Linked DNA regions of Homo sapiens: regions 1 and 2 are each linked to region 3. The links come from fine-mapping of genetic effects on gene expression. A gene starts in region 3. Each other region holds a variant in brackets. All regions are shown on one strand. Distances are between the middles of the regions.

Region 1 (8,000 bases), 63 kb before region 3:
TCCTTAATAAGTCTCCCTTTGATATGGCCTTTCCACCCTTACAGCCTCTCCTCTAGCCACTCGCTGCCTCAAACCATCTACGGTATAGAGGTTGGCCTGCCCGCGGAGCCGACTTCATCTTGAAATTCTTCATCATTTTGTAACAAGCAGCTGTGCATTTCCATTTTGCACTGGACCTCACAAATTACGTTGCCCGTCCTGCCTGCCTGTTGTTGCTTGCACCCCTCTTGCAGTTTGTGGCCACCTAAGCTTTGTCTGTGTAGTCTCCTCCACCTAAAACTCCTCTTCCCACATCACCCAGCTATCTTCAGCTCTTCGTTTAGACTCAATGTAGGTGTTCTCTTTGGGACGTCTCACCGACTCTCTTCCTTCCCCTTCCCTGCCCTAATCGCCCAACACGTTGCAGGTGCTCAACCATGTCTATTAGAGAAACTGAATGAGGAGGCAAAGCATGACAAGTGCCACAAGAGACCTGCACACTGCTCTGGATGGTAAAGCGACGCAAGGAGGGAAGAAGGTATTTGCAACGGCCTCCCAGATCGGCGCTAGGACCCCGCCAGCAGACGTCTCAATCTGCGTGGAGAAGACCCAGTGCCCGCCAGGGGAAGCGGCTGCCAGGCTGGGCTCTCGAGCGCCGCCTGTCGCAATCCCACGGCCGCTGCAGCGCACCCCCTCCCGTCCCCTGCCCTGAGCCCGCCTCGCGTCTCCAATTGGCTGTCTCCATTCTCCCGCCCCTCCCGAGCTCAGCCATTCGGAGCCTGGGGTGGGCGGGGCTTGAGGCCTGAGTGGAGCGTAAACCCTGATTGGCTGTACGGAAGGCGGCGACGTGGCCGAAGGATGCCCGTTTGTGTCTAAACGGAGGCTCGGCCACAACGCCACTGGATTGGTGGTAGGGCGGGGCGGGCCACAGTCTCCAGCCTGAAGCGGAAGTGGAGGAAAGATGGAGGTGTGGGGACAGGAGCTGGGTGTGCTGGGGACTGGCCGCGGACCCCTAACCTGTGTCTCCGGTCTCCCTCCGGAAGCGGCTCAACCCAGCCCATCGCTCTGGCCCCGTTCTGGCCCTGCAGGGTGGTGGTTGGGACGTTGAAATGAGCGCGCGAGTGGTACGTCCTCTCTCCGCGCTCACGCCCCCCTCCTCACCGTGTTTCCCGCCAGGACCATCAGCACGTGCCCATCGACATCCAGACCAGCAAGCTGCTCGGTAGGAGGGGGCGCCACCGCGCAGCTGGCTGTCGGGGGGAGGCCTGTGCGTTGCCCCCTGTGTCCAATAGCCGGGAGCTCTGACCCCTGAAAGCCTGAGTCGAGATGCTGACCACTGGCCTCGTTCTATGCCCCATCTGTGGCCAGACCTGCTTCCCTGATAGCAGCGGGAACGAACCATATGTACAGTCTGTTTGACCTGCGTTTTCTCCTTTAATAACATATGTTATCGTATCATTCAGGGACAGGATAAATGACTCGCTTTAAAAACAGTCAACCACTGCCGGGCGCGGTGGCTCATGCCTGTAATCCCAGCACTTTGGGAGGCCGAGGTGGGCGAATCACCTGAGGTCAGGAGTTCGAGACCAGCCTGACCAACATGGAGAAACCTTGTCTCCATGTCTCCATGACTAAAAATACAAAAAAATAAAAATAAAAAGTAGCCGGGCATGGGAGCACATGCCTGTAATCCCAGCTACTCGGGAGGCTGAGGTGGGAGAATTGCTTGAACCCCGGAGGCAGAGGTTGCGGTGAGCAGAGATCTCACTATTGCACTCCAGCCTGGGCAACGAGAGCGAAACTCCATCTCAAAAAGAAGACAAAAAACAGTCAACCACTAAGTGGCACATCTGAATTGGAACTTAAGTCTGTCTGACCCACTGTCCATGCCTTTTGCATTATGCCAGGAAAAAAAAAAAAAACCTCATTTAAAAAGCTTCCACCTCCCCCTTGATTTTAGGAGGAAGAGGGACCTAAGACCCAGTTGCAAATGAAAACCTTTTAGTGTCCAGGCCATCTCCAGGTTGTCTGTATGGGGCTTACATACTTCCTCCCCAGTTCATAGTCAGGGAAGGCCTCTTCATCTGATCACACAGCTCCTGGCATTTTAAAATGCTTATTGGATTCATGGATTTGATGCCAATCTTGTCCTTAAGATGGTGTCTGTTTGACTACCCCAGTCCGTTGCTTCTAGTTCTGTGACATCAACAGAATTTTTCTTTCTGAAAACTTTACAGGAATATAGCAGAGAGAGTATAACTGATACTAGTGTGGGACCCCAGCGTTTGACCGGTTGGCAGAGTTCAAGTTCTGAATTCACCACTCTGTAGTGCCATTTAGTCAGTCCTGCTTGGTGGTCACGGGGGAAGCTTCTTTAGCCTCCCTTCAGATTTGTACTGGCCCTTCAGCCCATGTGCAGTCTTGGTGTGTGAGCTTGTTCTTGGTCATGAAAAGGACCAATAAAATGACCACCATTCATTGAGGGTTTTTTTTTGTACCAGGTGCTGTTTTAGGCACTTGACATGATAAAAATGATCACTGTCATTTTTTGAGTCCTTGCCGTGTCTCAGGCACACTGTTCAGTGTTTTACCTGCATTCCCTTTTCTAGTCAGTGTCTTATTATTCCCCATTTTACATGTGGGAAAACTGAGGCACAGAATAGTAGACTTGCTCAAGAAACTTGATAACGAGAACCCAGGACCATCTGACCACAAAGCTCAGCTCTTAGCTCTCACTGAGGAAATATGCATGGCTCTGAAGCCACAAATCTGGGCCCAGACTTTGAGAGGTCAGTCCCATTGGTATTCACATGTACAGGGTGGTACTTCACTGTTCACAACAGAGTCATGTTATCTAGTCCTTAGGGCGCTGTAGGTATTAGGGGCTTTGCAGCTGTTCATTCATCCAGTACTTGGCATAACCATCTTGTATTTTCCATTGTCATGGTTAACCCCAGCCCTGAGGAAATGGAAGTTGAGCAGCATCCTCTTGTCAGGAAGAAAGATATAATTACCCATAGAAGCAAAAATATTATGGGGAATTGAGAATGGTCAAAAGTGGCACTTTCAGGACCAATTTAAACTTTTTGTTATCCCTGTGTTGAGGCAATTGCTCTA[T/C]AAAAATCACACTGCTAATGAAGTCAGATTGTCAGAGCCTGGTTTAGCCCCAGGCATCTCTTTGGGCTTGTCTTTATTCCCATCTTCCCATGACCCCCATACTTTAACCAATGTAAAGAAAACTTTTAGACTAATTTCAGTGTATTTCACTCGAATTAGTGATGGAATTTTGGTGATGTGAATGGGAATGCTCTAATTTGGGTGCTTCTCATGTAGATTGGCTGGTGGACAGAAGGCACTGCAGCCTGAAATGGCAGAGTCTGGTGCTGACGATCCGCGAGAAGATCAATGCTGCCATCCAGGACATGCCAGAGAGCGAAGAGATCGCCCAGCTGCTGTCTGGGTCCTGTGAGTGCTTAGGGGCTGTCACTGGAGTCCCCTCTTTGCTGAGGTAGTATGTATCAGCTGAGCTACTCTCTTGTTATTTAGCCACCAGGGCTGGCCTTTAGAGAGGGAGCGATTTTTATTTGAGGTATAGATGCTGGCTTCTTCCACTATGAAATGATTTAGGGAAAAGCTACACACTAAAGTTACTGGCAGTATATTATACATGAATCAGCCACCTGCAGTGCCCAGAGTAGGTGAAGAAGATACTTTAGTTCTCGAAATCCCGTCTCTTGCTTTCTAGACATTCACTACTTTCACTGCCTAAGAATCCTGGACCTTCTCAAAGGCACAGAGGCCTCCACGAAGAATATTTTTGGCCGATACTCTTCACAGCGGATGAAGGCAAGTGTGGGCCAAGGGCCGGTAGTATGTGGTTGGGGACATCCAATCCGAGGAGTCATAGCCTCTGTGGTCTCTCTGAGGCTCCAGTGGGGATGCCTACATAGAATATTTCCTGAACTTTCACTCTGTCTCTATAGTTTACTCCAAAAGTGGATCCTATCCCTGAGTTTAATTTTCAAACCCACTGCTTTAGGGATTGCCTGCACTCTTAAAGTGGGTGGTCCAGCCAGCAGAGTTGAAAGAAGGACAAGGAGTTTGTGTTTGATGTGATGTAAAGGCTGGGAGAACTTACCCTGTTTAGGGATTGAGCTGGGATGTGGCTGTCGAGTGCTTTTCTGGCTTAACATTGTTTTTCTGTTCTTACTCAGGATTGGCAGGAGATTATAGCTCTGTATGAGAAGGACAACACCTACTTAGGTAAAGTGGCCCGGCCTGGGAGCCCTGGTATCCATGGGGAAGCCCACTCTCAGAGTTCTGAGATACCAGGCTTATAGGAGGCACAGTCTGTGAGTGGGAAGAGACTGGAGTGTAGATGTTGCCCATTTGTAGGTGGTAAAATCAATTGTTTTTGATGGAATTGATTTTCCCTGAGTGGAGTGCTGGGGGAAGGAGGAGGTCCAGGCCGGTAGTGGCCATTCGCCGTGCCTCAGCGAGCAGGTGTGTGTGGGTCCTCCACCACTCACCTCTTGGTTAGCGGGAGTGTGCTGCCCCCACCCCCACCCCCGCACCCCCATTCTACACAAGGCAGAAGAGGCACGGGTTTTTCTGGGAGCGAATATCAAGTGCCTGAGAGCAACTACAGGACTAACTGTGTTTGGGTTGGGTGTAGTATAAATAATAATAATGGCTAATATTTCCTGAGCATCTACTAAATGCAAGGAATTGTGCTTGGTGTGTCATGTGGATTCTCTCTTGCATCTTCATGATAAATGTTATTGTCGCTGTTTTACCGATGAGGGTTGGATTAGAGGGGTTAAACAACTTGTCTTAGGCTCCACAGCTGGGAACAAGTGGGGCTGGGAAGCTGACTTCGTGCTCTTCACCACCACAAAGGATGTGTGTGCATCCTGGGGCATGCCTGCCTCATGTGGGGGTGTCCTGGGCTGAATTTCCTGGGCACTTCTCAGTGGAACTCTCTAGCCTCCTGGTTCGGAATGTCAACTATGAGATCCCCTCACTGAAGAAGCAGATTGCCAAGTGCCAGCAGCTGCAGCAAGAATACAGCCGCAAGGAGGAGGAGTGCCAGGCAGGGGCTGCCGAGATGCGGGAGCAGTTCTACCACTCCTGCAAGCAGTATGGCATCACGGTGAGCGGCGGCAGCCTCTTCGCAGCCAGAGGACACCTGGGCCCCTGCTTGTCTTCCTCTGACCCCGTCTGACCCCTCAGCCTGGTTGCACCCCCTTTGGGCCAGTGTCTTACTTTTCTTCGGTCTTTGGATGTTTTCTTCAATCTGTTGGACTCCACCTCTTCTCCCCTCTCTAGGGCGAAAATGTCCGAGGAGAACTGCTGGCCCTGGTGAAGGACCTGCCGAGTCAGCTGGCTGAGATTGGGGCAGCGGCTCAGCAGTCCCTGGGGGAAGCCATTGACGTGTACCAGGCGTCTGTGGGGTTTGTGTGTGAGAGGTAGAGAGGCCTCAGCTTCTCCTGGTGGGGGTGCTTTGCCTGTGTTCCCCAGCTCATGACCCTTCTCCAGTTGTCTTGTTCCCATATAACATTTGAACTCTTTACACACCTGAACCTGTGGGGGCCTTGCCCATTTGACCATGTGGCCCAGGCCAAAGCCCAGTGTTGGCCTTACGCATGGTCGGCAGGAGAGTCAGTTGTGTGCTCTGTTGAAGCCCCACAGAGCAGGTGTTGCCAATGCTGCGGTTCGTGCAGAAGCGGGGAAACTCAACGGTGTACGAGTGGAGGACAGGGACAGAGCCCTCTGTGGTGGAACGACCCCACCTCGAGGAGCTTCCTGAGCAGGTGGCAGAAGATGCGGTAAGATGGGCCTTGTGATGAGCTGTAGGAGTGGAGTGGGAGCTGCTTGTCCCCTCCCCACCCCCAACAGCCCAACCCAAGACCCAGAGAGAAGAAGGGAGGATTTCTGTGAGAGTGACTGTAGGTAGAAGGGCCCAGGAGGCCCTACTCCTTTATTTTTCTGAGTATAGGTGAGTGAGTGCCACAGAGGCTTTGCAAGGTGGTTCGCTTTGAACTCGGAACCTCCATCATGTGAGCTCTCTGAAGATGGGCTTTCTTTGGGGTAGCTTAGAGGCCACTGCATTTGAACAGTGTGCTCTCTACAGAAGCAGCTGAGGCCTGTGGGAAGGCAGCCCCACCCTCCTTTTTAAATTAATTTATTTTTGAGACTGGGCCTTGCTCTGTTGCCCAGGCTGGAGTGCAGTGGCATGATCCTTGCTGACTGCAACCTCTGCCTCTCAGCCTCAAGCGATCCTCCCAAGTCAGCCTCCAAGATAGCTGGGATTACAGGTTTGCACCACCACTCCTAGCTAATTTTTTATTAACATCTTTGTAGGGACAGGATTTTGCCATATTGCCCAGGCTGGTCTCAAACTCCTGGGCTCAAGCAATCCACTATCCTCGGCCTCCCAAAGTACTGGGGTTACAGACATGAGCCACCATGCCCGGCCCTTTTTAAATCCATCTTCCATGAGCTAACACTCTCTTTCCCTTTCCAGATTGACTGGGGCGACTTTGGGGTAGAGGCAGTGTCTGAGGGGACTGACTCTGGCATCTCTGCCGAGGCTGCTGGAATCGACTGGGGCATCTTCCCGGAATCAGATTCAAAGGTGAGGAGGCCTTCTCAGTCTGTCTCTCTCTGATCACTACTCTAACCATAAGAAAAGTGTCATTTGTGTCTGTAACGGCATCACTTGAAGTTCATAGCTCTAAGACCAGGTATAGTCCAAGGGAGGCAGAGTTTCACACGTCACATGTCAGAGTTTTGTTTTGTTTTTTGAGACAGAGTCTCATTCTGTCGCCCAGGCTGGAGTGCAGTGGTGCAATCTCGGCTCACTGCAACTTCCGCCTCCCAGGTTCAAGTGATTCTCCTGCCTCAGCCTCCCAAGTAGCTGTGATTATAGGCGCCCACCACCACACCCCTCTAATTTTTTATTTTGTTTGTTTGTTTGTTGAGACAGAGTCTCACTCTGTCGCCCAGGCTGGAGTGCAGTGGCATCATCTTGGCTCACTGCAACCTCTGCCTCCCGGGTTCACGCCATTCTCCTGCCTCAGCCTCCTGAGTAGCTGGGACTACAGGCGCCCGCCACCACGCCCGGCTAATTGTTTTGTATTTTTAGTAGAGATGGGGTTTCACCATGTTAGCCAGATGGTCTCGATCTCCTGACCTCGTGATCCGCCCGCCTCAGCCTCCCAAAGTGCTGGGATTACAGGCGTGAGCCACCGCGCCCGGCTAATTTTTGTATTTTTAATAGAGACAGGGTTTCGCCGTGTTGGCCATGCTGGTAACTCCTGACCTCAGGTGATCCACCTGCCTCGGCCTCCTGAGGTGCTGGGATTACAAGCGTGAGCCACTGCGCCCAGCCCATGTGAGAGTTAAATTTTGATGTCCTTTTTCTTGGTGTTTGGTACAGGGTGTAGGGGTAAAGGCAGGTGGGAACACTACAGAGCAGGGATGATGGGCCATACTGCCATTTTTGGCACCTAAGTCAGGGCTGCAAATCCTTAATAGAGTTGGAATGTGCAGCCATTGACCTCATCAAGGGCTTTGGTTTATTCTGGCTCCTTGGCTCAGGAAAATTCTCCCCCCATTGCTGTGGTTCTTTGCTCTCCTTCCAGGATCCTGGAGGTGATGGGATAGACTGGGGAGACGATGCTGTTGCTTTGCAGATCACAGTGCTGGAAGCAGGAACCCAGGGTAAGTGCACCATCCCCTGCAGCCCTGGCAAAAGTGGGGTGCTCAAGGGCCCCCACGTGTCTAGAAACAAAAAATGCAGCGCTAAGATGAGGCTTCTTGCACATTTAACTGTTTCTCAAAACCTTGATGAGGATGTGAGCTGAGGGGGACCAAGAGAGGTTTTTTTTTTTTTTTTGGAGACGGAGTTTCGCTCTTGTTGCCCAGGCTGGAGTGCAATGGCATGATCTCAGCTCGCTGCAACCTCCACCTCCTGGGTTCAAGCTATTCTCCTGCCTCAGCCTCCCGAGTAGCTGGGA
Region 2 (8,240 bases), 430 kb after region 3:
ACTCCATGCAATGAAAAGTTCTAATGGGGAGTGGGGACACTTCTCTCCCCAGTCCCATCCCATGGCTTGGCTGAAAATTTTTTTCTTTTGGGAGATCACTGGCTTTCTCCAGCAACCTTGACTATAAGGATGAGGATGAGGAGAAAAAATAAGAACTGCCGAGTGTGGTGGCTCACGCCTGTAATCCCAGCACTTTGGGAGGCTGAGGTGGGTGGATCACAAAGTCAGGAGTTCAAAACCAGCCTGGCCAAGATGGTGAAATCCCGTTTCTACTAAAAATACAAAAGAAAAAAAAATTAGCCAGGCGTGGTGGCGAGTGCCTGTAATCCCAGCTACTGGTGAGGCTAAGGCAGAGAATTGCTTGAACCAGGGAGGCAGAGGTCACAGTGAGCCGAGATCATGCCACTGCACTCCAGCCTTTGCAACAGAGTGAGACTCTGTCTCAAAAAAAAAAAAAGTACACAGGGGAGGTTGTGGGGAATTTGGAATATTCCCTAAGGATTTCCTCCATTGAAGAGGTCTGCTTTAAAGTACTGGGGGTCCACAAACTCACCCCATTTCCAGCTTGGCCTTGGGAGAAGAGGAGGACAGAGAACAGAATTCTGGATTGTTACTAGGTAGTTGGGCTGCATCAGGAAGACATTTTGGTAGAAGGAGAGGAAAGAGAGGTAGGAAGTGGGAAGGGAAGCACTAAGGGTTTTTTTTTTGACCCTGATCCCCTTAGCTAGACAAGCTCAGTGGGGCTTAGGATGGAGGTCAGGGATAGCCTAAGATCCTGTTACTGAAAGGGTAGTCTCCAGCCAGCAGCATCAGCATCACCTGGCTCTTAGGCTTCACCCCAGACCTACTGAATCAGAAACTGCATTTTAATCCCTAGGTGATAAGTATGTCCAATAAAATTTCAGAAGCATTAGCCTAGATGCTTCAATGGGAATAACTTCTTGCAGTGAGCTATTGAGGAACTGTGCTGGATAATCTCTCTGCCCTTCCAAATCCACTTGCCATCCTTATTCCCCTGCTCTTGGGACTAAGAAGTGAATTGATGAATTCGCTTCCTTTATTCATTGCTTCAACAGGCTCCCTTGTCATCTGGCTTCTGGTTGGGCTCAGCCAATGGTCAGTGCTCAAGAAGCAGTGACTTAAGTGACATTAATAGTGACTTTACCAGCCAGGCAGGGTGGCTCATGCCTGTAATCCCAGCACTTTGGGTGGCCAAGACGGGTGGATCACCTGAGGTCAGGAGTTTGAGACCAGCCTGGCTAACATGGTGAAATCCTGTCTCTACTAAAAATACAAAAATTAGCCAGGTGTGGTGGCATGTGCCTGTAGTCCCAGCTACTCAGGAGGCTGAGGCAGGAAAATCGCTTGAATCTGGGAGGCAGAGGTTGCAGTGAGCAGAGATCGTGCCACTGCACTCCAGCCTGGGCAACAGAGAGAAACTCCATCTCAAAAAAGAAAAAAAAATAGTGACTTTACCTGAAGTTTTTATAGGGAAACAGGAGAATGCATTTATAATTTTTTATGCAGCAAGCCACTGGAAAAGGCTGAGGGTAGCATCAGGATATTTATTCCCCCAGCTGGGCCTCAGGTTGACAGTGGCTATGTTCCTCAACTAAAGGCCACAGCTCCTGTGGGCCAACCCTCTCCTACAACTCTCTCCAGACTGTGAGGACTGCTCCTTCCCAATCCTTTAGGCCTCGAGTGGTCATTATTCCCTATTCTGGCTAACCGCACCATTTCTTATGGGTTTCTCTGAACCCTGCCCATATCTTTGTAAATATGCCTGCATTAAACTTTACTCAGACAAACCCCATTTGAGTGTGCCATCTGTTTTCCAACAGGACTGTGATCAATAAGGTACCCTGGAGAACAGAACCAGAAAGAATTCTTGCTCATGGCTAGGGAATTGACCTAGATGAGTATTTTCAATTAAAGAATCTTTGAGATCGAAATAACCATTTTTCAATTCAGCATGTTATTTCTTCGTGAATCTTGTTTTTAGAAATGAAAAATATATCACAGAAGCACTTGGCACTTTCTCCAACATGCCTCAGCTTCTGTGCTCCGGCCTGCCTGAGTGCAGGTGCAAGTGCAGGTCACAAGGAGGGAAGTGAAGCTGCCACATTCTTGCTCATGAGCACTGATTGTTAAACTGTCAAGAATTTTGCAAAAATAAATTGTTTTTAAAAAGAACTAAAATTGGCCAGATGTTGTGGCTCATGCCTGTAATCCCAGCACTTTCAGAGGCCGAGGCAGGCACATCACCTGAGGTCAGGAGTTGGAGACCAGCCTGGCCATCATGGTGAAACCCTGTCACTACTAAAAATACAAAAATCAGCCAGGCATGGTGGTGGGTGCCTATAATCCCAGCTACTCAGGAGGCTGAGGCAGGAGAGTTTCTTGAACCCAGGAAGCAGAGGTTGCAGTGAGCTGAGATCACACCATTGCACTCCAGCCTGGGCAATAAGAGCAAAACTCCGTCTCAAAAAAAAAGAAAAGAAAACAAACTAAAATGGTATAAAGTTACAATAAATTATATGTATATATATACAAACATATATATTTATGCACACACACACACACACACATATATATATAGGTTTTTTTGAGACTGAGTCTCATTCTGTCACCCTTGAACCTCCCAGGTTCAAGCGATTCTCATGCCTCAGCCTCCCAAGTAGCTGAGATTACAGGTGTGTGACAAAATGCCTGGCTAATTTTTGTATTTTTATTAGAGACGGAGTTTTGCCATGTTGGCCAGGCTGGTCTTGAACTCCTGACCTCAAATGATCCTCCCGCCTCAGCCTCCCAAAGTACTGGGATTATAGGTGTGAGCCACCGTGCCTATACGTGGCCCAAATTATATTAAAAGAAAAAAAGATACTAAATATCATCACTTCCTAATTATTTTGCTAAATTTCATTGCTATCTAACCTTTTAGGGTTATTTATGTCTGGTGTACCTAGGTGGTAGAAACACTATAACTGCACATCTCTTCCTAATCCTGTTTTCAATGATGTCATGAAGAAAGTTGAAATCAGGCATGGTGGAATTATTTACACCAAGGAAATAGACGAATGCAACAAATCAGGACTTAACTTTTTTTCTGGAAAGCTGTTTGTTAAATATTTTCCAGGAGAAAGGGAATCCTTTGAGATGATCATGTTATTTGGACTTGTGTGGTTTTAAGGGAGATCCATATGCTTGGTTTCTATTGTGAGAAAGCAAAGTGCAATAGACTTGGCACTGGACTAGAAAGGACAAACTAAACTGTTCTCTCTAAACAGGAGTGAAGGTTAGTTCTCTTTGGCTTCTTAGGACAGGATGGATTAAGTAGACCTTTTAGCATGGGGAGATGTGTATTATATTAATAAATAGCTTTCTTTCACAGTTGTTTGTTTAAAATCTCTGAAAGTACTTTACATCTATGACCTCTTTCATCTATCAAGTATCTGAGTGACCAAGGAAAGAAGCAATAAAGATTTTTGTGTTTTTTTTGTGACAGAGTCTCGCTCTGTCACCTAGGCTGGAGTGCAGTGGCACAATCTTGGCTCACTGCACCCTCTGTCTCCTGGGTTCAGGCAATTCTCCTGCCTTAGCCTCCCGAGTAGCTGGGACTAC[A/G]GGCGCACGCCACCATGCCCGGCTAATTTTTGTATAGAGATGGGGTTTTGCCATGTTGGCCAGGCTGGTCTCGAACCCCTGGCATCAAGCAATCCACCTGCTTCAGCCTCCCAAAATGCTGGGATTACGGGAGTCAGCCACTGTGCCCAGCCAAGATACTTCTTAAATATAGAAAAACTGGGGACCCATGGAGGTTAAGTGACCTTTTTAACCTCAAAAACTGAGGCCCAGAAGGGCAACGCACTACAGTATCCAGAGCCCTCCTCCAACAGCTGTCACTTGTGTGACCTTGAGCAAGTTGTCCATATTTTCTGAGCCTGTATCTTCATCTGTGAAAAGTTATAGGGGAAATAAATGAAAGAATATGTGTAAATCACCAGATTTTGTGATTGATGTTCTAAAAATTGTGAGTTTAATAGATATACTCAAAGATTTTGTAGGGGAGAAAGAGAGAGCTTACATTATGCAGCACAGACAACTTGAAGGGGCACAATGGGCATCATTGTTGTTAAACACCCATTTGTCAATCCAACGGTATGGAGTTTCACTTCTCCCTTCTCCACACCTGGCCTCTCTCCATCCCGTTGGTGCCTTGCTCCTCCTCCTCTTTTTTCTCTTCTCTCTCTCATGCAGAGCAATATTCTCCCTTCTCTGAAGTTGTGAGCACATCTGCCATGTGTTAAGCACATCAAGGCATTCTTCTAAGCAGAATTCCCTTCCTAAGAGAAATTCTGTTAGTAAAGTTGTTACTTTATTATACATACGGAATCATTTGCAAAGGGTATTCCCATTCACTATTTCCTTTGAATCTCAGAGCCACCCTGTGGCAAGAATTACAATTATAACCACTTTACATTGGGAGATACCGAAGCTTAGGGAATTGCTCAGGGTCATAACTTAAAAGTGGCTGAGGGGCTGAGCGTGGTGACTCATGCCTGTAATTCCAGCACTTTGAGAGGCTGAGGCAGGAGGATCTCTTGAGCCCAGGAGTTCAAGACCAGCCCGGGGAACATAGTGAGATCTTGTCTCAACAAAATATTTTTAAAATTAGCTGGGGGTGTTTCTCCCAGCTACTTGGGAGGCTAAGGTGGGTGGATCACTTGAGCCTGAGAGGTTGAGGCTGTGGTGAGCCATGGTCACACCACCGCACTCCAGCCTGGGTGACAAAGCATAAGAGACCCTGTCTCAAAAAAAAAAAAAAAAAAAAAAAAAAAGACTGAGGCAGGAATTGAACCTGGCAAGGTACCTCACAGCATGCTGGTCGTGCTTCCTCACTCTTCAGAGGCGGCATGTTCTAGTTGGCCTCCTGAAGGAAACTACTAATTTTGTTTTCTCTGCCATTCAGTGAGCATCTAGATTGAGAGCCCCACATAGGTCACTTCCTGAGCAAGATGTCAGGAGCTGGGTTAGGGTTGTAATTCCTTTCCTAGCTTGTTGTACAGCCTCGAGCAAGGAGAAGATTTGAGAGGCAGAAAGGTAGCGCGTTGGGAAAAAATGCTATGTTCCAGGCATTATATGCTAGAACTTTACATTGATTACTTCATCTAATCTTCACTAGAATTCTGTGTGAGATAGCATCAATATTTTAATTTTAAGTAAAATTAAATTGTGGAAACTGAGGCTCAAAGAGCTGATGAAATTTGTTCATGGTCATACGGATAAGAAATGATGGAGATGGGATTTGAATCTTTGTCTCTGGGACTCTAAATTCTATCTGCATTTCCTCATGTCATGTTGTCCCTCTGGGCCTTGGGGCCTTTTTAAAATGTAAATCCAGGCAACTAACTCCTCTGAATCCCACCTCACATGTCTGTCAACTGCTGGATTATGTTCCTAATCCGGCAGGGGTCGCAAGGCTGGGAAACCTTCATGCCACTATCAATCTTCTCCCCAGTTCAGAGGTCAGAGGCTCTCTTTACTCCAGCCCCCTCCTCCACCTCTGGGATGGGGCCACATTTCACCTGAGGATTAACAGCCACACCTCTCTACTTCTGCGGAGGATAGAGGGCGACTATGAAGGATGGTGTGTCTCCCCACCCACATCTCATACCTAGCCTGGGGCGGACTGTTCATTAGGGGCAGGCAGGGAGGAGGCGAACCAAGATAGCACAGAGATCCATCAAGGTGCCAAGCTGACAGGTGCACACACCTGTTTCTAGCCAGAGGAGCTAGAGGCCAGTGGGAACCTGCCTCATAGGAGAGGACTTTGTCTGGAAAGAGAAGGGAGGAAGAAAAAACAACAACAGCAACTGAGAGTGGATCACTCTAATTACATGGCTCTAAATCACCGAGAAGAACCTTGGCTCAAACATCCAAGTGGTGGAGGATGGATTTTTACCTTGACTCCCGCTAATTTTCATTGATTTATGGGGCTTGAAAGCATTTATTTTCTGCTCAGAGGCAGCCCAGCTCCTGCTAAGGAGGTGCAGGACTCCCCTAAATGCTGTCACCATGGAGAGGCGAGCAGCAGAGGTGGCTCTCAGGGCAACAGCTACATTTCCTGCTCAGTTCCAGTTGCTACCTAAGAGCTGGGAGGGTCCAATGGGAGCTGCTGGCCCTGCTGTGACAGCCTCCCCACTCCTGTCCCCAGAGCCTGCCTGCTTCTGGTCACAGCTACTTGAGTTTAACACTCCTGGCAGCTTAGCACTCTGGTTTTTATGTGTGAAGCCGTAATATTTGGTGAGCTGTGAGATGAGGTGGCAAGATTTGCAACTGGCATTCCCTTCCGGCCCTGCCCTGTGATTCAGGTCAGTGGTGTGACAAAGTGAGGCCACCCCTCCTCCCCACTCTGGCTTCCCACCTGTGGCTATTTGGAATGATGTCTTTCCTTCGTTTTCTCCTCTTCCCCCATCCCATGCCTGATAGACTCCCGTAGCTCTTGGCTTTCAAAAGGGGGTATTCAGTCCTCACATTCCAAACCATCTGCTCAATTAAACATTTTAAACAGCAATTCTGAGTCTGCCCAGGACCACATTCCAAAAGGTGGGTGTCAGGAGATAGGCTTTCTAAATGTCAGAGGCTCTGTGAAAATCTTAACTGATGAGGAAGTGGGCCAGCTAGAAAGCATCACGTTTTCTTGGAGATTAGAAACATAAGACTCAGTGTCCATACTTTCAAAATTCCTCTTCCTGAGGCACATGATGAGTCATTTGAGCATCTCTAGTCCTTTTCTCCAGGTCTGTATTCCCTGAGCCTTCCTGCCCTGTTTCCTGAGCCAGGGTTGAAGTTCAGATTCCTGTGGGTCCCCCCAGGCATCCTCCTTATCTGCAGTTGTCTTAATTTCTGTCCCATCTTCCCACCCATTCCAGTTGCAGCTGCCTTCCAGGAATAGAGTAAGATTTATCATAATATGATGGTACAAGGAGGAAGAAAATTAAACATTTTTATGAGATAGTTTTGAGTATATATTAATAGAGGCCAGGCGCAGTGGCTCACGCCTGTAATCCCAGCACTTTGGGAGGGTGAGGCAGGAAGATCACTTGAGGTCAGGAGTTTGAGACCAGCCTGGCCAACATGGTGATGCCCTGTCTCTACTAAAAATACAAAAATTAGTTGGGCATGGTGGTGGGCACCTGTAATCCCAGCTACTGGGGAGACTGAGGCAGGAGAATCACTTGAACCCAGGAGGCGGAGGTTGCAGTGAGCCGAGATCATGCCATTGCACTCCAGGCTGGGCAACAGAGTGAGACTCATTCTCAATAATAATAATAATTATTATTATTATTATTATTATAGAGCTTTGTAATAAAATTATTACTGATTCTGAGCTAGCTGTAGGCCCAGCCTTCAAGAAAACAGGAGCAGAGAGATCTCCTAAAATGTCTTTAAAACTGGGGAGTCTTCAGCCTAGACAACATAGCAAGACCCTATATTAGTCCGTTTTCACGCTGCTGATAAAGACATACCCGTGACTGGGAAGAAAAAGAGGTTTAATTGGACTTAACAGTTCCACATGGCTGGAGAGGCCTCAGAATCATGGCAAGAGGCGAAAGGCTCTTCTTACATGGCAGAGGCAAAAGAAAATGAGGAAGAAGCAAAAGCAGAAACCCCTGATAAACCCATCGGATATCGTGAGACTTATTCACTATCACGAGAATAGCACGGGAAAGACCAATCCCCATGATTCAATTACCTCCCCCTGGGTCCCTCCCACAACATGTGGGAATTCTGGGAGATACAACTCAAGTTGAGATTTCAGTGGGGACACAGCCAAACCATATCATTCTGCCCCTGGCCCCTCCAAATCTCATGTCCTCACATTTCAAAACCAATCATGCTTTATCAACAGTCCCCCAAATCTTAACTCATTTCAGCATTAACCAATATCAGACCTCATCTCTACCAAAGGTAGAAAAAAATTAGCTGGGAATGGTGGTGCGCACCTGTAGTCCCAGCTACTTGGGAGGTTGAGGTGGGAGGATCACTTGGCCCTGGGAAGCGAGGCCTCAGTGAGTTGTAACTGCACCACTGTTCTCCAGCCTGAGTGATAGAGAGAGACTCTGTCTCAAAAAAAAAAAAAAATTAAATGGAGAACATCTTACACATTTGGTATGGATTGGCACTATGACTTAGAGGTAGTAGAATTAGTCAGAAAACTTCTGGACTCTTGCAAATAGTTA
Region 3 (8,255 bases):
GGGCAGCAATGGAGAGTTTCAGAGGCCTGGGCTGGAGACTGACTGCGGTGTGACATTAGAGGGAACTTCCATGTGTCTGGGCTGGGAAACTGGAGTTCTCCACTGGGAGACATTGAGTGTATCCTTCTCTAGTTATGTTTAAGAAGGACAAAGCCTCCCTTGAAGATGAAGTGATTACTTCATTCCTGGTTCCCAAGGAAACTAAGGGGCATCGAAGATACACATTGTCCCAGAAAGAACCCTTCTGGCTGCCCTCCTCTACCCCATGGAGCCTAAAAGAAGGGGTCCAATGGTGAGCCTCCAGGTCCCAGCCTCAAGCCCAGATTCCAAATAACAACATTTCCCCATAGACAGACCCTTCTTACTGCCCCAACCTCCTGAATTCACCTCATTCTCGTAGGATGAGCCCACCACGTATAGGAAGAGGTCAATGCTGTTCTTGTAGACGATGGTCATACCCCCAAAAAATGCAATCTCACCTAGAAGTGGAGGGAGCTTTCAGTCCTGGCCACCTTGCCTGGTCCTAGCCTAGCCCCTCCTCCTCATGTATGACTCTGTGACTCTCCTATTTCCTTCTCCCCTTTCTGGAGAACCCTTGGAAAGACCAGCACTAGGGACACTACCATCAGGCAGCCCCGTGTCCTTCCCCTTATCTGCTACTCTATTTCTAGGGACTGCCTCAGGCCAAGGAGTCAACAAGCCCAGTTGTTGACCCGTTTACCTCCTGCCCACGCTCCCACCCTGTGCAGCACCTTGGGACCAGATCCAGGTTGGGACCACAACACAGTTGGCCTCCTCAGCTAGAGAGAGGCCTGGGGATGCTGGGGGGTTGGGTAGTTGGGGGAACTGGAGAGTGACAGGGAGTGGAGGTTCCCTGGAGGAAGGGAGTGGAGAACAGCAGGGAAGGAGAGGACAAAAAGCCTCTGAAGAAAGGGAAATGGCCTGTGGGTGTGCAAGGCTGATGGGGACAGATGTGTCCAGATGGAGAAGATGACAGTGTGCATCTGATAGTCTGCTGGAGGAAGAGGGGGACACTTACTCTCAGTCCGGCTGGTCTTGTTGAAGACATTTTTCTCGAAAACCATCTGCTCCTTCATGGAGGGGAATGTGTCATCATAATACTATGAGAAAGGGAAGGAGAAAGGACCATAGCTTTCCACACAGCCTGGATCCTCCCTAGATTGGGGGGCAGGAAAGAGTAGGCGCTGGGCAAGCGGGATCCTGCTTCCCTGCCCCATCTCTCCATTACTGCACCCTAGGCCTGCAGGCTCATTACTTCCTCCAAAACAAATTATTCTTTTTTAGATGGAGTTTTGCTCTTACTGCACAGGCTGGAGTGCAGTGGCACGATCTCGGCTCACCACAACCTCCACCTCCCGGGTTCAAGCAATTCTCCTGCCTCAGCCTCCTGAGTAGCTGGGATTACAGGCATGCGCCACCACGCCCAGCTAATTTTGTATTTTTAGTAGACAGGGTTTCTCCATGTTGGTCAGGCTGGTCTCGAACTCCCGACCTCAGGTGATCTGCCCACCTTGGCCTCCCAAAGTGCTGGGATTACAGGCATGAGCCACTGTGCTTGGCCCCCTCCAAAACAAATTCTGAGCAAAGAAAGTCCCAAAAAGTAGAGGGATATTGAGGCCTGCTTTTGGAGTCCCCTCCTGGTTTCTTGGAGGATCTTGTACATTCAGCAGATGTGCAGGGTGCTAAGGATTGGCATGGTCACGAGGGCACACTAATTCTACAGCACCCTGAGTCTCTACAGGAAAGACGGCAAAACCAGGAGTCCTTCTTAAACAATAATAATGATAATAACAACAGCTACTTTATTATCCCCATTACACGGATGGGGAAACCGAGGCATCAAGAAGTCAGGTAATGGCCTGGCATGGTGGCTCATGCCTGTAATCTCAGCACTTTGGGAGGCCGAGGCGGGTGGATCACCTGAGGTCAGGCGTTCCAGACCAGCTTTGCCAACATGGTGAAACCCCATCTCTACTAATTATACAAAATAAATTAGCTGGGCATGGTGGCGGGTGCCTGTAATCCCAGCTACTTGGGAGGGTGAGGCAGGAGAATCGCTTGAACCCGGGAGGCGGAGGTTGCAGTGAGCTGAGATCGCGCCACTGAACTTCAGCGTGGGCAGCAGAGGGAGACTCCGTCTCAAAAAAAAAAGAAGTCAGGTAACTTCCCCAACATCTCACAGTTGTGAGGCCAAAGCTGGGTTTGACCACTAAGGACGGTCTGACTGCAGACAGGGTTATAGTGAAGATTAAATATCTAAGAAACAATTCCTCACACATATCCCATAACTAAATTAATGTTTTTTGTTTGGGAATGGTGAGCCTCTCTCTCTGACTCAGTTTCTTAATCTGTAGGGAGGAAAAGCCTTTGGCCTTGCTGATCCACCTCTGACCATCTGCTGGGGCAAGGTGTGGTCAGCTCAGTTTTCAATTTTCTGGATGTGGATTTTGCCACTTAATACTCAATCCGCAGGCAGATTAGCCATCTCCCTAGTGGCCGCTGCTTATTTGAATTTCATAAAAACAAAAAACTTTCAGTTCCAAATAAACAAACAGAAAATCTATTTTTTGGGATGGGGTCTCACTCTATAACCCAGATTGGAGTGCAGTAGCTCGATCATGGCTCACTGCAGCCTCAACCTCTCGGGCTCAGGCAATCCTCCCACTTCAGCCTCCCGAGTAGGTGGGACTACAGGCACACACCACCACGCCCGGCTAATTTTCGTTTTTTTGTTTTTTGTTTTTGTTTTGTTTTGTTTTTTGTAGAGATGGGGTGTGCCATGTTGCCCAGGCTGGTCTGGCACTCCTGGGCTCAAGCAGTCCACCCGCCTCGGCCTCCCAAAGTACTGGGATTACAGGCATCAGCCACTGCGCCTGGCCTTACAACACATTTCTTTTCTTTTTCTTTTCTTTTTTTTTTTTTTTTTGAGACAGAGTTTCGCTCTTGTTGCCCAGGCTGGAGTGCAATGGTGTGATCTCGGCTCACTGCAACCTCTGCCTCCCAGGTTCAAGCAATTCTCCTGCCTCAGCCTCTCGAGTAGCTGGGATTACAGGCGCCCACCACCATGCCTGGCTAATTCTTTGTATTTTTAGTAGAGACAGGGTTTCACCATGTTGTCCAGGCTGGTTTCGAACTCCTGACCTCAAGTGATCTGCCCGCCTTGGCCTCCCAAAGTGCTGGGATTACAGGCATGAGCCATCACACCTGGCCTTATAATGCATTTCATAGCTAATGCAGATGCTATAGCTCCCCTACAATTAATTGTGTTGACAGCAGAAATTTATTTTTGGATTATTTTAGTTTGGTTCGCTCAGGCCATGTTTGCTAGGATAGATAACAGCTAATTGAATGGGGGTACAGTGAAAACCACCTTGAGCTTCATGTCAAAAAACCCGAGTTTGCCTGTGAAACCTGTGAAATGGGAGAAGTGAAAAAATTAAATAAGTAAATAAATAAAATTTGAGTTTGGATCTGTTAGGATATTAATACTTGTGACCTCAGGCAACTCACTTAGCTTCTCTACCCCTCATTTTCTTCATCTACGAAATTAAAGAGTTGGATTATACAGTTTCTAAAATCCCATCTGGTTCTAAATCCTTAGACTCCTTAGACTAAATCGTTAGTGTTTACCAAGCTGTAGAACAAAAGTGGAGGTTTAGAGACAAACCCCAAAGAACAAAAGAACTTGTGTGGGGGTTTGGGGACTAAGACTCCTGGGTCCCAGGCTCAACACTCCACTGACCCATTAGGCAGAACCTTCCCATGCCCAGGTCCAACTGGCCAGTAGCAGGATGATAAGGAAACATTTCAGGGAACATGAGTAGAAATAGAGGAGACCCCTCATTTCAGGGAGCAGCACCTTGACAAGGCAGGAGGATGAGAAGGACCTCTGGAGGGGTCTAAGCTGAGCTGCCCTGAGTCACAGAGATCACAGTGGAGTTTCTCCTGAGACAGGAGTGTCAGCTGAGTGGGAACTGTGTCCCTCATGGGTGGGGTCAGAGGTTACCTTGGCCAGCAGCCGGCGCCCGTCATTATCTAGGATGAAAACAGCCTTGATGGTGTAGAGGGAAGGTTCCTGCAACTGACACCGGAGAGGAGAGTTCCGTTTGGCCCCTGACTCGAGGTGGACACCCTGTGTCTATGGGATCTGCTGGCCCTAGGATACATCCTCAGGCCCCAGCAACCCCAGTCCTCAAGGTCCACAGCTGGTTCTGCCCAGCCCTGTGCCACATGGGCCAACCCAGGTGCCCACTCCACTCCCAGGCAGATGTTCCACTGCAGGCCCCGAGTGGGCGCTGTGCCCGTTGGGTGCAGAAGGTCCTTCCGGGCCCAAGTTCTGTCATGCACTGACTGCTCCAGAGCCCGAGTCGGAGTGTATCACAGAACCTGGGCCGGGGGGGACAGCGGGCCGAGCCTCCTTCTTCCAGCTGATCCCTGGCCGGGCTGGACCTGCGCTATCAGCGCGCCCCCAGGCCCTGGCCCGGGTAGACTCCAGAAGCATGCCCATCACCCACCGGTGATGGGAGCCGAGTCTGGGACGGACAGGCCACTCCTTACCCTCCCCGCGGAATCGCAACTCACCCGCCACCCCCACTCCAAACGGACCCAGAACTTCAGCCCCGCGCCGACGGACTCAGGACAGGCCTCCTCTCCGGTCGGCGCTGGGACGAACTTTTCCTCCCGGGTCCTGGGGCCAGTCAGGGGTGACACAAAGTTCCCAGCCGCCGGGCGCGCGAGTTCTGAGTTGGCTGCTCCCCCTAACCCTGCTCTGTCCCTGCCCAGCTCCCGCCGCCCGGGATCCCCGCGCCCGCCCGCTCCGTACCCGCAGCCCCGAGGGCTCCCCGGCTCGAGCAGGCGGCGCCGGGCCCCCGGCCTGGGCCGCCGCGGCCCCCTCCCCCGGGTGCGGACGTGGCCAGGCCTCGGGCCGCTGCATTCCGCTCGCCGCCTCGCACTGACAGCGCCGCCCGCCGCCTGCCCGCCGCCGCCGCCCCGCCTCCGCGCCGCCCCGCGGCCCCCTCTCGCGCGTGGCCTCCCTTTCCTCGGGGCCCCGTCCTCTTGCTCGTTCTCCCCCATCTCCCCTCCCGCCCTCACCCCACCTCTCCTTCCCCCACTTCTCCTCTCCCTCTCTCCTCCTTGGCTCCTTCCCGAGTCCCTTACATCCCCGAACTCTGCATCCTCAGGGTGCCCCAAGACCAGCCCTCGTCCTGCTTCCTGCCTGCTCTCCGGCCTGTGGCTTTGGTGTGCGCCAGTGTCTATAGGCTGTCCTGGGGCCAGCAGCAAACACAAGCAAAGCCCACTTTTGTCTGTTGACCTCTGGTAGGTACCATGAGGACAAATACGTCAGGTCACCCTTTAGATCTCAGGGACAGGGTCTATAAGCAAGAGCAAATGAGGACAGTTCTGGGGACACCCCTCTGTGAAGAGGCTTTCTCATTCCTCTCTCACTACTTGCAGAAGGCAACCATGGGCCCGGAGACACCTCCCCAGGCTCTCCTAAGTCACAGATATGGCACCATCAGAAGCAAGACAGACGCCCAGCAGCACAAATGCTCCACCAATGACATCGGGCTTTGCAGCATGTTTTGGTTTCTTTGGTCTAAGTCTAACTAAGACAAGCTCTCATTTCAGGGTACACTGGCAAGTGGGAAATTCACATCCCAGTGATATGTTAGTGCTACGTATGCATTTACCGGTAAAAACACTGTGCGTGTATTTTACATTTGACACCTTCACATCCATTATCTAATATAGCCCACACCTGTAAGATAGGCATAATGGACCCTCATTTTAAGCAAAGAGAGACTCAGAGGTTGTGTGACCTTTTCAAGACTATACAGCTAGTTGACTGGGGATAGAACCCAGATTTTTGACTCAAAATTTCTTCCCTATTCTTCTCTTCAAGCCCTCTTATGTTGTGGACCACAGTCACTTACCCTAGATGGTTACAGAATGGGGTTTTCCTCACTGAATGCATCAAGTCTTCTTATCTTCAAGCCTCTGCTGAAATATAATTACCAAAAGGTCCTCCTGACAGCCACCATATCTGACTTGATAGGTCTCTCCTGTCACATTCTCTCAGTTCCTATTTCTTTCTTTCATTGCACTTTTTTCAATCTCTAAATATTATTTTTACTAATATTGCTTGTTTGAGACACGGTCTCACTCTGTTGCCCAGGCTGGAGTGCAGTGACTCGATCTGGGCTCACTGCAGCCTCAACCTCCTGGGCTCAGGCAATCCTCCCATCTCAGTCTCCCGAGTAGCTGGGACCACTGGTGCATGCAACCACTCCCAGGTAATTTTTTATTTTTTTATTTTTTTTATTTTTGTAGAAACAAGGTCTCAAGTCTGGGCTCAATGGCTCACATCTGTAATCCCAGCACTTTGGGAGGCTGAGGTGGGCAGAAGGCTTGAGCCCAGGAGTTCCAGACCAGCCTGGGCAACATGGTAAGATCTAGTCTCTACTAAAACTACAAAGAAATTAGCCAGGTAGGGTGGTGTGACCTGTAGTCCCAGCTACTCAGAAGGCTGAGGTGGGAGAATCACCCGAGTCTGGGGGTTCAAGGCTGCAGAGCCATGATCATGCCACTGTGCTCCAGCCTGGGCAATGGGAGTGAGAATCTGTTTCAAAAAAAAAAAAAAGAAGAAGAAGAAGAAGAGAAAAAGAAAGGAAGAGGAGGAGGAGGGGGAGGAGGGTGATCATGATCAAGGTCTCACTATGTTGCCCAGGCTGGTCTTGAACGCCTAGGCTCAAGTGATCCTCCCACCTCAGCCTCCCAAAGTGTTGGGATACAGGCGTGAACCACCATTCCCAGCCTTTACTAGTTTGTTTATAAGTGTTCCTTCTCCCCGCCCAGACTTTGAGCCCTGCAAGAACCAATGAATGTGACTTTTTGTTTGTTTGTTTTTTTGTTTTGAGACAGGGTCTTGCTCTATCACCCAGGCTGGAGTACAGTGGTGTGATCATAGTTCACCGCAGCCTCAAATTCCCAGTGTCGGCCGGGCACGGTGGCTCACGCCTGTAATTCCAGCTCTTTGGAAGGCCGAGACAGGCGGATCACGAGGTCAGGAGTTTGAGACCAGCCTGGCCAACATGGTGAAACCCCATCTCTACTAAAAATACAAAAAAATTAGCCGGGGGTGGTGGCAGGTGCCTGTAATCCCAGCTACTCGGGAGGCTGAGGCAGGAGAATCACTTGAACCTGGGAGGTGGAGGTTGCAGTGACCCGAGACCGCACTACAGCACTCCAGCCTGGCCAAGAGAGCGAGAACCTGCTACCCACCCACCCACCCACACACACACACACACACAAACAACTCCCAGGATCAAGCCATTCTCCTGTCTCAGTCTCCTGAGTAGGTGGGACGATACACACGTGCCACCATGCCTGGTTATTTATTATTATTTTTTTTAAAGGCAGGGTCTTGCTGTGTTGTCCAGGCAGGTCTTGAACTCCTGGGATCAAGCCCTCCTCCTGCCTCGGCCTCCCAAAGCCCTGAGATTACAGGTGTGACCCACCTCACCTGGCCAATTATGTTTGTCTTGTTCACTGTGGAATCCCTAGTGTTTCTTACAAGGCTTGGTGACAGATTTTTTTTTTTTTTTTTTGAGACGGAGTCTTGCTCCGTCACCAGGCTGGAGTGCAGTGGCGAGATCTCGGCTCACTGCAACCTCCGCCTCACGGGTTCCAGTGATTCTCCTGCCTCAGCCTCCCGAGTAGTTGGGACTACAGGTGCACACCACCACGCCCAGCTAATTTTTGTATTTTTAGTAGAGACAGGGTTTCACCATGTTGGCCAGGATGGTCTCGATCTCTTGACCTTGTGATCTGCTTGCCTCGGCCTCCCAAAGTGCTGGGATTACAGGCATGAGCCACTGCACCTGGCCGATGACAGATATTTAATAAGCATTTGTGAAGTAAATGAATAAAGGAATTCAGGATGAGGGAGATCATGTATAAATATTCACAAATACCAAATTTTAACTAATAATAATTAAAATGTACCTATCAATGATACCATATTGGCTGGGTGTGGTGGCTCATACCTGTAATCCCAGCACTTTGAGAGGCCAAGGCGGGCAGATCACTTGAGACCAGGAGTTCGAGACCAGCCTGGCCAACATGGTGAAACCCTGATTCTACTAAAAACACACAAAAATCAGCCAGGCATGGTGGCGAGTGCCTGTAGTCCCAGCTACTTGGGAGGTGAAGGCAGGAGAATCATTTGCACCCAG

Direction of the effects. Positions count from the first base shown, and alleles are read on the strand shown. Sizes are in standard deviations (SD) of each study's normalised expression. Not every link is listed here.
In carriers of allele A in region 2, the expression in monocytes of the gene that starts at base 4,974 in region 3 tends to be higher than with G alone (moderate effect, 0.45 SD a copy in Fairfax 2014).

Evidence for each region.
Region 1: its variant is fine-mapped to the expression of COPZ2 in whole blood (INTERVAL, PIP above 0.99).
Region 2: its variant is fine-mapped to the expression of COPZ2 in monocytes (Fairfax 2014, PIP 0.95).

The regions. Positions count from the first base shown.
Region 1 is chr17:47,970,207-47,978,206 of GRCh38, forward strand. CDK5RAP3 (CDK5 regulatory subunit associated protein 3) reads left to right here and starts at 907. Exons shown (of 14, transcript NM_176096.3): 1 at 907-946; 2 at 1,156-1,201; 3 at 3,313-3,444; 4 at 3,725-3,825; 5 at 4,194-4,242; 6 at 4,953-5,131; 7 at 5,308-5,447; 8 at 5,663-5,807; 9 at 6,506-6,616; 10 at 7,626-7,704. The coding sequence starts at 941. RefSeq lists a silencer at 558-847 and enhancers at 1,269-1,896, 5,193-5,693. The variant T/C (reference allele first, on the strand shown) is at 3,097.
Region 2 is chr17:48,466,398-48,474,637 of GRCh38, forward strand. No RefSeq gene overlaps it. Among named protein-coding and RNA genes, the nearest start is that of SKAP1, 40 kb to the left of the region's middle. The variant A/G (reference allele first, on the strand shown) is at 3,622.
Region 3 is chr17:48,032,824-48,041,078 of GRCh38, forward strand. COPZ2 (coat protein complex I subunit zeta 2) reads right to left here and starts at 4,974. Exons shown (of 9, transcript NM_016429.4): 1 at 4,844-4,974; 2 at 4,028-4,102; 3 at 1,040-1,121; 4 at 388-479. The coding sequence starts at 4,954. MIR10226 (microRNA 10226) reads left to right here and starts at 59; the gene lies at 59-128. MIR152 (microRNA 152) reads right to left here and starts at 4,424; the gene lies at 4,338-4,424. RefSeq lists an enhancer at 6,091-6,140.